Regions from separate parts of the Homo sapiens genome. Here region 1 is linked to region 2. A link means that fine-mapping ties the variant in region 2 to the expression of a gene that starts in the linked region. Tissue or cell type: whole blood. Region 2 holds a variant in brackets; the other region holds the start of a gene. All regions are shown on one strand. Distances are between the middles of the regions.

Region 1 (5,656 bases), 45 kb before region 2:
TGGTTGACAAAAAGAGTTAAACTCTGTAAAATATTTAAAGAGATTTATTCTGAGCCAAATCTGAGTGACCATGGCTCGAGGCACAGTCTCAAGAGGCCCTAGGAACATATGGCTAATGTCTCACGTGTCCGTGTGAAGAGACCACCAAACAGGCTTCGTGTGAGCAACAAGGCTGTTTATTTCACCTGGGTGCAGGTGGGCTGAGTTTGAAAAGAGAGTCAGCAGCGGGTGGTGGGATTATCGTCAGTTCTTATAGGTTTTGGGATAGGCGGTGGAGTCAGGAACAATGTTTTGCGGGCAGAGGATGGATCTCACAAAGTACATTTTCAAGGGTGGGGAGAATTACAAAGAACCTTCTTAAGGGTGGGGGAGATTACAAAGTAAATTGATCAGGTAGGGTGGGGCAGAAACAAATCACAATGGTGGAATGTCATCAGTTAAGGCTATTTTCACATCTTTTGTGGATCTTCAGTTGCTTCATGCCATCTGGATGTATACGTGCAGGTCACAGGGGATATGATGGCTTAGCTTAGGCTCAGAGGCCTGACAGCTAAGGTGACTGAGCTGCAGCTCGGTTTTACATGTTTTACGGAGAAATAAGACATCAATCAATACATGACATAAGGTATTGGTTGGGTCAGGAAAGGTGGGACAACTCGAAGCTGGAAAGAGCTTCTACATCATAGGGTGGATTTAATAGGTGATTGGTGTTATGCCACGACTACGCCAATTGTCAGGTTCCAGCCCCCAGCTGAGGTCCAAGGGGAGTGGGTGGATGGGCGAATAACTGAAAGAACACAAGGAGGGTTGGGGGCGTGTAGGCAAGTGAAATGTAGTTTTATTCAGCGGCTGTGTCATCAGCAGCTTAATCACACTAGCTCTCTCACACTGTCCACCTTTATCTCGGCTGTCTGTTCTGGCTCTGTGGCTCCTGTTGCCCCCATGCCTGCAGCTGCACACCCTGGCCTGCAAAGCCAGCTCTGTCAGGGTCAGCAGCTTAACTCTCCCTCTGGGCACAAGCTGGTTCCTGGCTCGGCTCCCCTCTGCCCACCTTAAGGGCAACCGCTCTCCCTTAGAGGGGTTAGTAGCATTACTCTGGGCACCAGTGCACGAACCGGGTCGTGTCGTGCTGAACTCAGACCTGGGCACAGTGTCAGCAGGGCAGTTATACCTTCTACAGACAATAGTGGCTCAGATCCAAGTATGAACTTACATAAACGGGTTACATAACAAGTGGAATATGCGCCTGTGTCCTAAACTCGCTGAGCCACTCTGGCCCGGATGTCCACCTTGGCCTATTCCTTGACCAAAGCACATCCATATACCCTACAATTGGCAATTGGTTAAAAGAGTTATTATATAAAGACCTGGAGCCAATAGAAGGCAGTGTCTGGGTTGAGATAAGAGGTTGCAGAGACCAGGGTTCTTGTTCTGCAGATGAAGCCTCTATGTAGCAGGTTTCAGAGAGAATAGATTGTAAATGTTTCTTATCAGACTTAAAACAGGTGTCAGGTTCTCAGTTAATTCTCTCCAGCATCAGGGAAAAGACCTGGAAAGACAAGGGGATTCTTTACAGAATGTAGATTCCCCCCAGAAGAGATAGCTCTGCAAGGCCATTTCAAAATATGTCAAATAAATATATTTGGCCAGGCACGGTGGCTCACACCTGTAATCCCAGCACTTTGGGAGGCCAAGGCGGGTGGATCACCTGAGGTCAGGAGTTCAAGATGAGCTTGGCCAACACAGTGAAACCCTGTCTCTACTAAAAATACAAAAATTAGCTGGTGTGGTGGCACACGCCTGTAATCCCAGCTACTTGGGAGGCTGAGGCAGGAGAATCACTTGAACCCAGGAGGTGGAGGTTGCAGTGAGCCGAGATTGCGCCACTGCCCTCTAGTCTGTGTGATGCAGCGAGACTGTCTCAAAAAAAATATATATATATATACGTATATGAGTATATATGTATACATAAGAGTATATGTGTGTGTGTGTTTGTCTATGTGTGTGTATATATATATCAGGATAAAATACTTCAATGTCTTTTGGGGCCTGCTGCCATGTTGGTATCTTATTGCTGCAAAAAAGTCTGTTTTGTCAGTCTTAAGGTCTCTGTTTAATGTTAACGCTGGTCAGCTGTGCCTGTATTCCAACGGGAGGAGGGTATAATGAGGCCTGTCCCACCCCATCTTCCCATCATTGCCTGAGCTAGTTCTTCAGGTTAACTTTGGCGTGCCTTTGGCCCAGAGGAGGGATCCACTCAGTTGGTAGGGGGGCTTGGAACTTTTATTTTTAGTTTACACAATCAACTTGAGATCAGAGTGTCTCATCTGTTTCCTCCATCTCCAAAAAGGAAGGTAATTCACAGCCTTCTCTTTTCTAAATGGTGAGGACCCCGGGGCCCCTGCTTCTGAGGCGTTGGTTATCCAGACTATGCCACCATGTCTACCTGAGCTCCCAGAAGAAGCCAGAAAGAAAAGAATGGAAGGAAACAGAAGGACAGTGGGAACGGGAAGAGAAGAAATGACGAGGTCTCAGTTCTCCACACTCTAGCCTCAGCACCCACTTAAGATTGAAGAGTAGTCCCTCACGGGCTCCCACTTCGGACTCTGGCCAATAGGAACTGAGACTCTTAACCAATCAGCGCTTTGCGTTTTTCCAGCGTTCTGCGTGCTGCCATGGAGATGGAATGAGCAAATCCAAACATAGAGGGATGGTGGGCCGACCACTATGACTGTTACTCCAGCACTTCCCGCCCCAGTCTCTGGCCTGTGGGCTCGTCCAAAGGCAGGGCGTGATGCCCTTTGGGTGGAGGGAGGGGCCCTCGTGGTCTCTCACTTCCGGGCCCCAGCCAACAGGAACGGAAACTGCACAGCCAGTCGGCTTCCTGAGCTTCTTCCGGCGTTCTGTGTGCTGCCGTGGAAACCGTATGGACGAATCCAAACCTGGAGGGGCGTCGCCTCCGTAAGGCTGGTCGGCTTCTTCCGCGCGTTCCGCTTTGCTTCACTGCTTTCTCCCCCATTCTTGGGCCTGTGGACCTGTCCTGAGGCAGAGGCCGAGATGCGCGCAACCGCGGGAGCAGCCAAGTGGACTGGACTCTTTTCTTGACTTAGCTACCAGGTGCGTGGCAGTGGCGGTTTTAGTAGCTACGAGTCTGAGTTCGTGTCTGCCTAAGCGGTCGCGGAAGAGCGCGCAGGCCTGCCGGGGCGGGTGGGTGGTGGCGCCTGGCCGCCCTCTCTCCTTCTGCCAGTGGACCCCGTACCCCCTGCGCTCCCCTGCTTTGCGCTCGTGTTAAAAAAGCCGCCCGTTTTTATCCGGGCGTTAGTTAAGGGCACACGGGACGCCTCTTCTAGGACCTGGGTGCAGCGGGGAGAGAGAGTGCTTGTGTGTTTCGGCTTGGGAGATGTGCTTTATGGACGCCATCTCTTAACTTCCCAGAGCGGACCGCGTCTTCACCGCCCTGCAGCGCTTCCTAGGCTCCCAGCCGGTCTCGCGGACTGATGCCTACGGACGTAGCGAGGCCGCGAAAGCCGCCGATTCGCCCGCCGCGAGTTGCCTGGGGAGCGGGGGGGGGGGGGGGGGGGGTGAGTGACTACGTAGCGCCCCTGAGTCTGTGATAATTGAGTCTGTGAAGTGCGGCGAGGAGGAGCACCTATGGAGTGCTTAGTGTGGCGCGCGCCATCGGTTACATCTCGGGGTTGATTTGGCTGGCATTTCGCAGACTTGAGCGCATCCCAGTCACCCCAGGGCGTGTAGTAACACAGAAGGCCAGGCCCTACCGCCGTAGTGTATGATTCCGTAAATTTGGGGCAGGGCCGATAACTTTTTCTTTTGTATTAAGTCCCAGGTGATGCTCATGCTTCTGGTGCGGGAGTCATGATTGTGCTGAAAGTGGGCACCTGTGCGCTCTTATCACCTGTTCGCTCTCAGCGTTCCTTGAATGTAGGACCTGCCCCCGACTCTTAAATGCCTCATTTGCACCTGTATGTGATTTGCTCTGCCTTCTGGCTTCTTAGATGCTTCTTAGGTGAACTTGTGAATTAAGAGAGACTTCCTTAGGAGCACTATAGGTTAAGAGACTAAACTGTGGTTTCTGGGAAAGCACACTCGAGTGAGAAAACCATGAAGAAACCTAAGGAAGTGATGACTACGAAAGTCAGGGGGTGGTTAACTTTTGGGGATCAGGAGGGGTGGTGATTGAGACAGGCTCACAGAGGGGCTGCTTGTGTGGCTGGCAAAGTCCTATTTCCTGACTTTGGGTGGTGATTAGAAGGGTGTCCCTCTTTAGTAATTCATTAAACTATGTATTCTGTGGAGTTTTCTGTACTTGTGTTTTATTTTATAATTAAGAGGTTACAGCTTTAAAAATGAATATTAGGAAGTCTGTAATGGGGAACGTGTTTGGACTGAGTCAAAGAATCTTAAAGTCATGGAATTTCAACTATTAATAAGTTATTGAAAGATAACTTAGTGCCAGGCGCGGTGGCTCACACCTGTAATCCTAGCACTTTGGAAGGCCGAGGCAGGCGGATCACTTGAGGCCAGGAGTTCTAGACCAGCCTGGGCAACATAGTGAAACTCCATATCTACCAAAAACACAAAAAATTAACTGGGTGTGGTGGTGTGCCAGAGGCTGAGGTGGCTACTCTGGAGGCTGAGGCACGAGAATCGTTTGAACCCTGGAGGTGGAGGTTGCAGTGAGCCTAGATCTTGCCCCTGCACACCAGCCTGGGCCACTGAGTGAGACCCTGTCCAAAAAAAAAAAAGAAAATCATTTGATCCAATTCTTATTTTACTCTAAGGAAACAGCCTTAGAGAGGAGAAATGCTTGAAAGTAACAAACCACCCTATCTAAGCAGATTTATAACTAATGTGTTTTGTTAATTTCAGACTGAAATTGTCCACATGTGACTTGATGGTCAGATGTGACTAAAGATTAAGGAAATGAATTTGGCCTAAATCAAATTCAAAATTTCAAGATGGGCTGGATGGTGGCTTGCACCTGTAATTCCAGAATTTTGGGAGGCTGAGGCAGGAGGATTGCTTGAGCCCAGGGGTTCAAGACCTAGCCTCCTTTAAAAAAAAAAAAAATCAAGATTTTACTTAATTTTTTCCCTTGTAGCCTAAAACCTTATTTTCAAGAAATCAGTTATACATACTGTATGAAAACTTATTTTATCATCTTATCCTGAGATATCCTAATGTAGACAATTTGTGAACACTTAAGGTTTCTGATTATATTTTTTCTGGCTTAGTAACTTCCCATCTTAACATACTGTCAGTTTAATCTTATTTTGGTTATAATACATACCATATAGCTGGGACTACAGGCATGCACCACCATGCCAGGCTATTTTATTTGTGTAGAGTCGGGATCTCACCATGTTGCCCAGGCTGGTCTTGAACTCTTGGCTTCAGACAATCCTGCCTCCACCTCCGAAAGCGTTGGGATTACAGACATGAGGCACTGTGCTAGGCCAGGATTGGTTCTTTTTAATGAATGGGTTTTAGAACGAAGAGGGATGTAAAAAGGACTTAGGGAAACCGTCATTAAAAGAAAGATACTAACCAGTGCCTTTTTGTTTTTAATTAATTAATTATTATTATTTTTTTTGATATGGAGTCTCTTGTCACCCAGGCTGGAGTGCAGTGGCGCAAT
Region 2 (6,480 bases):
GTATATGGGGCACACAATGGGGCTTTTCACTAAATATTTCCTATTCTCCTGGATAGATGGTAGGATTGCATCCTCTCCCTGGTCAAAGCCAACTAAGTGTGAGCGGAAGTGATGTGAGTAACTTTGAGATGGGAATTTTAGGAGCCAGTGTTCAGTTAGCTACATTCTTTCTCCCTGCCTCCAAGTGAGGAAGCATGAGTGGAGTTGGAGCCTCTATCAGCCTGGGTCTTTGAGTGACTATGAGGATCAGAGCTTCTTGGTAGATTTGTTGTGGACATGTTTAGTGATAGATAAACCTTTGCTGTTAAGCCAGTGGGATGTTGGGGTTGTTATATTGAAGGTTTAACTTAAACTATTCTAATTGAAATTTAAAAGAAGAATGTAGCTGAATGTGCCATACCTCTCAGGTAGATTTTAAACACTTTTTTATATTCACACACATCCTTTGCAAAATGTAACCTTAAAATTAGAAAACATTTAAAAATGTGAAATGCACATGAAGTTTTATTCATGCGCATGTTTTTCTCCTGCCCTTTTTCATCTCATCAGATCTTTCCTAGGTGGGTTCGTGTTGGCAGCAATACAAATGCCTAACCGAGCTGTTCTTCATACTTTGCTTTTAGGATCTCCTGTATATACAGCACCAGAAGTTGTGAGGGGTGCTGACTTTTCCATCTCCAGTGACCTCTGGTCTTTGGGCTGTCTGCTTTATGAAATGTTTTCAGGTAATTGTTTCCTGAATAGGTATAAAATCAGAGCTGGACTAAAAACCAGGTTAAGTCTGTACTTTGCAGATGTTTTACCTATAAGATGTGAAAAAACTAGATTTTTTTTTATTTTGAGACAGAGTCTCGTACTGTCACCCAGTCTGGAGTGCAGTGGCACGATCTCGGCTCACTACAACCTCTGCCTCCTGGGTTCAAGCCATTCCTGTGTCTCAGCTTCCCGAGTAGCTGGGCTTACAGGTGCCCACCACCATGCCTGGCAGTTTTTTCTATTTTTAGTAGAGAGCGGGTCTCACCATGTTGGCCAGGCTGGTCTTGAATGCCTGACCTCAAGTGATCTGCCTGCTTAGGCCTCCCAAAGCTCTGGGATTATAGGCATGAGCCACTGTGCCTGGCCAAAAAAACTGTGACCTTATAAATTTTTATGTATACTGATTTTGGCTGAGTTGCTTGGTATCTAGGCATATGCAGATTCCTAGAAAGTTCTTGATAAATAGGTAATTTTTCATGATAATCTGGAATGCTGAAATGTGCCTAACTCAAAAATTGTGATTATTAGAAATTTTTGTAAAGATGCCTTGCAATTGTGTATTATTCAGATGATTTGAATGGCCCATGCACCCATTGGTTCATAGTAGTGGTCCATATGTGTGTTTGTGTATTTGTTAGGATGATAATACATTTTGAAGTAAGAGAAATATATAGGCAGTGCCTCGTACATACTAGGCATTAAATAGCTATTGCTATATATTTTTTCTATAAGTTGTATAATCTTGAAATATCTGTAGTTGAGATTAGAATTATTGGTGATAGCAAGGCCAGGTGTGGTGGCTCACGCCTGTAATCCCAGCACTTTGGGAGATCGAGGCGGGCGGATCACGAGGTCAGGAGATTGAGACCATCCTGGCTAACACGGTGAAACCCCATCTCTACTAAAAATACAAAAAATTAGCTGGGCGTGGCAGCGTGCGCCTGTGGTCCCAGCTGCTGGGGAGGCTGAAGCAGGAGAGTGGCCTGAACCCAGGAGGCGGAGTGTGCAGTGAGCCGAGATTGCGCCACTGCACTCCAGCCTGGGTGACAGAGCAAGACTCCATCTCAAAAAAAAAAAAAAAAAAAAAAAAGAATTATTGGTGATAGCAGACTTCTTTCATTTTGCAAGTTTTCATGTGATTTCAGGAAAACCTCCATTCTTCTCAGAAAGTATTTCAGAATTAACTGAAAAGATCTTATGTGAAGATCCTTTGCCACCTATTCCGAAAGGTAAGATTTCTTATGATAAATGGAATTAATTTACATTTTACACTGATTAAAGGTGTACCTTTATCCAACGTTTGCTTTTATTGATTCATAACTCCCCAAAGTTATCTTTTATAAATGATCCCAAGTTGATATTTTTAGAAATGTTAGTATTTCTTTTGCCATTTTTTAAAGATGCTGAAACAGAAAACAAAGTACTAATAGATTTCCCTCATTTAAAAACTATTTTGTGCATCTATATCATAAAAAGTATGGCTTAAAGACTTAAAAAACTTAAACCCTTATGTGACATTGCTTTTTGTATGTACCATTTACTTACTTTGTAGTCGTATCCCATGTGGTTATTTCTATCTCCTGTTGGAACAAATTCACCATTTCCTTATCTTGATGAATCAGAATGCTACCCTTATAAGTTTTAAAAATCTTTATTTATTTATTTATTTATTTATTTATTTATTTATTTATTTATTTTTGAGACAGAGTCTTGCTCTGTTGCCCAGGCTGGAGTGCAGTGGCGTGTTCTCGGCTCACTGCAACCTCCGCCTCCCGGGTTCAAGCAGTTCTCCTGCCTCAGCCTCCCGAGTAGCTGGGACTACAGGTGCCCACCACGGCACCCGGCTAATTTTTTGTTTTTTGTTTTTTATTAGAGACGGGGTTTCACCATCTTGGCCAGGCTGGTCTCAAACTCCTGATGTCATGATCCACCCACCTCAGCCTCCCAAAGTGCTGGGATTACAGGCGTGAGCCACTGCGCCCGGCCTAAAAATCTTTAAAATTAGATACAGTTGTATTATTTTTAAAGTGTTGGAACTTTAATCATATAAATTGTGGTTAATATAATGATCTATCAGCAATAATTTTTAAGGAAAGGAAAACAAAAGAAGGCACAAGTGTAGTAAAACATTTTGCTATAC[A/G]TTGTTAAAGTTTATCTTAAGACACATAAATGAAAACAGGATTCTACAAAAATTATTGCTATATATACATATATATATATTTGAGAGACAGGGTTCTGCTGTGCTGCTGTGTCACTCAGGCTGGAGTGCAGTGGTGCAGTCAACCTCCCAAGTAGCCGGGACTATAGGGGCACACCACTGGGAATGGCTAATTTTTTAATTTTTTGGTGGAGACAAGGTCTTGGTATGTAGCCTAGCTTGTCTTGAACTCCTGGCCTCGAGTGATCCGCCTGCCTTGGCCTCTCAAAGTGCTGGGATTTCAAGTATGAGCCACAATGTGTGGCCATTACTACTACTTTTAACCATAGACTGATGACCTGGATATGGTATATAACTAATTTAAAAAGACAAAACATTATGAGATTAGTGGTATTGGACAGTGTCATATTATAATGCTTCTTATTTCTGTTAAAAATCTTAAAAGAGGGATTGCAAATATTCTTAGTTGTTCAAGTTAGGAATACTTAAAAGAATAAGGTATAATTAATAGTTAAGCTGGGGCCGGGCATGGTGGCACACACCTGTAATCCTAGCACTTTGGGAGGCTGAGGTGGGTGGATCACCTGAGGTCAAGAGTTCACGACCAGCCTGACTATCATGGTGAAACCCTGTCTCTACTAAATACAAAAAAATTAGCCAGGCATGGTGGCACATGCCTGTAATCCGAGCTACTTGGGAGGCTGAGACAGGAGAATCGCATATACCTGGGAGGCAGAGGTTGCAGTGAACTGAGATCGCTCCATTGCACTCCAGCCTGGGCAAGAAGAGTGAAACTCATTCTCCAAAAAAAAAAAAAAAAAAATAGTTGGAGCTGAGCATAGTGGCTCACACTTGTAATTGTAATTGCAGCACTTTAGGAGATCCAAGGCAGGTGGATCACTGGAGCCCAGGAGTTGGAGACTAACTTAGGCAGCATAGTGAGACCCCATCTCTATAAAAAATAAACAAAAATTAGTCAGGCATGGTAGTGCATGCCTGTAGTCCCACCTACTCTGGAGGCTGGGGTGAGAGGATCACTTGAGCCTGGGAGGTAGAGGCTGGAGTGAACCATGATGGTGCCACTGCACTCCACCCTGGGTGACAGAGCAAGACTCTATCTCAAAAAACTCCCCCAAAATAGTTGAAGACAAGTGTTTGAGTTTGTTAAGCTGGTGATCCTTATTGGGATTGTTCAGTGAAGAGAAGGCTTAGAGGTTTGTTAAGACTTAGTTTTTGAGATTTACATTTCTTTTTTGTGATCTAGGAAAAAATGTTTTTAATCTTTGTGTTCTGTACCTCCCCATCCTGCCCCATTAAATAGAGGATATAATTGTTGTTAATGGATTTAGTGTTCTCTTAATAATAATGTATGTGTTTAAAATACTATTGCTTTAAATGTTGATGTAAGAGATAAAAATAAAATTGATATGTATTTACTACTTATCATTTTTTCTTGGAAATTAATTCATTTATAGATTCTTCTCGTCCTAAAGCTTCTTCAGATTTTATTAATTTGCTTGATGGGTTACTTCAAAGAGATCCTCAGAAAAGGTAGGGACAGTAGTTCGATCTTTTTTTCTTTTTCTTTTGAGTTCTGCAAATGGAGTAAGGGGCAGTATTTTAATGGGAATAAATAATGAAATCTTTTCCCCCTTTTATGTACTTCTAAAATGGTGCTGTTCTTAATATACAAATAGCTATTCAAATTATTATTTTTTAAAGAAGTCTGACTTCGGATTAAAAGTTTTTCTCTCAGTTTGCAGGTGTTTTTAATCATGAGGAATTTTTGAAGTCAGTTTCTCTTTTCATGTATTAAGTAGTTGACAAATTTTCTTATAACTCCCAAATCCAAGAGGTACCATTTCTTGTATTTTGTATTTCAGGCTAAAACTGTTTGACTATTGACCGAGGGATGATATTGTCAAGTTAAGATGCTGTTAACTGAGTGTCATAAAAACAGGTTTTATGACACTCCTGTCATAATGGGGCTATTAAGTGATAGGATAATAGGCACCTTGTGAATTTTCTGTCAGTGATGGCAATGTTAGAAATCATTGTTGAGGCACAGGGTAGGGGAGGCTAGGAGGTAGACCAGAGTGGGAAAGAGGCCCAAACAACTAGTTTCTAGTTCTGGTTCTGTCACTAGGTAACTGGGATGGGGTGATGGGAGGAGGGTTCCGTTTATAAAATGGAGAATAAATTTAGTGTAGCATATACAAGAATCCATTCTTTTATTAAATATATTTTAAAAACTGCAGAAGGAAATGCTGATTTTTGTATAAGCTGTAGGACAAACATCCTTTACTTATATTAGAATGCTTTCAACATTAGTGTTATTTTGGTGGATAATTTTTCAGACATCTTTTGATAGGATGTAACTATACCTAATTTACTTAAGACGGTGTATCCACATATCCCTACATTTATAACTGTATGCTATATAATTTTTTGCTTACATGGGACCACTCCATAACCTACTTTTTTCTCTCATGGTACATTATGCATATTTTTCCATTTCCATTTCTGAGTCTTGCTCTGTCACCCAGGCTGGAGTGCAGTGGCACAATCTTGGCTCACTGCAACCTGGGTTCAAGTGTTTCTCATGCCTCAGCCTCCCAAGTAGCTGGGATTTCAGGCGCGTGCCACCATCCTCAGCTAATTTTTGTGTTTTTAGTAGAGATGGGGTTTCACCATGTTGGCTATGCTGGTCTCGAGCTCCTGGCCTCAAGCAGTTCCGCCTGCCTCGGCCTCCCAAAGTGCTGGGATTTCAGGTGTGAGCCACTGTACCTGGCTGCCTGGTCATTTTAAATGGCTGTAGAACGTATATACAATTACCTATAAAAAAGTAAACGTTTAGAATGCCTCTTGATTTGGAATATTATATGTGTTGTTACAGTAAATATCCTTTTGTGAATTTTTAAAATTTTTTTGGGTTTACTTGGTTAGTTATCTCTTTGATGTGAATTTCTCAAAATGAAATGGCTGGCCAAAGGCTAAGAGCATTTAAAAAGTTTGATACATTTCCTGCATTCTAGGAACATGTGCTGATTTACACTCCCAGCAACAATATGTTAGAAAGCTCCTTCCCTCCCACTCTCATCTACAGTGTGCCTTGTTGATCTACATTTTTGTCAGTTTGATGGATGAAAATACATTTTACTTTGTTGGCTATTTTTATTTCTCCTTTAGTGAACCATAAGAACCTTTGTGTAAAGGAATATTATATGTGGTTGCAAATTCTATTATTTGTGTTTTACTTTTGATTGAAGTAATTTTATTTAATACAGAAATTTTGAATGATTAGTCGACTATAAATTCTTTTCTTTTTTGTTTTAAAATTTCAGTCAGGCTTAATTTTCCCACTCTGGTGAGTATATCTAGAGGTATACTCTATTAGTAGTGAAACTTAATCTTTTGAAAGTGAGCCTGAGTTTTAAATACAACCTAAAGTCATTTTAATGCAAGTGAACTAGCTAGGTAATATTATTTTGATTCCTAAACAAGGTGTGAATGTATATGGTTATGAAGCTGATATTCTTTCCTCCCACCGCCGCACCCCCTCCCGG

The links. PIP is the estimated chance that this variant, and not a neighbour inherited with it, causes the effect.
Region 1: ULK4 starts here. The variant in region 2 is fine-mapped to the expression of ULK4 in whole blood (INTERVAL, PIP above 0.99).

Annotation. Positions count from the first base shown.
Region 1 is chr3:41,959,477-41,965,132 of GRCh38, reverse strand. ULK4 (unc-51 like kinase 4) reads left to right here and starts at 3,030. Exons shown (of 37, transcript NM_017886.4): 1 at 3,030-3,117. RefSeq lists enhancers at 2,701-2,750, 2,901-3,060.
Region 2 is chr3:41,913,962-41,920,441 of GRCh38, reverse strand. It overlaps ULK4 (unc-51 like kinase 4), which reads left to right. Exons shown (of 37, transcript NM_017886.4): 6 at 624-725; 7 at 1,902-1,985; 8 at 4,390-4,465. Among named protein-coding and RNA genes, the nearest start is that of ULK4, 45 kb to the left of the region's middle. The variant A/G (reference allele first, on the strand shown) is at 2,897.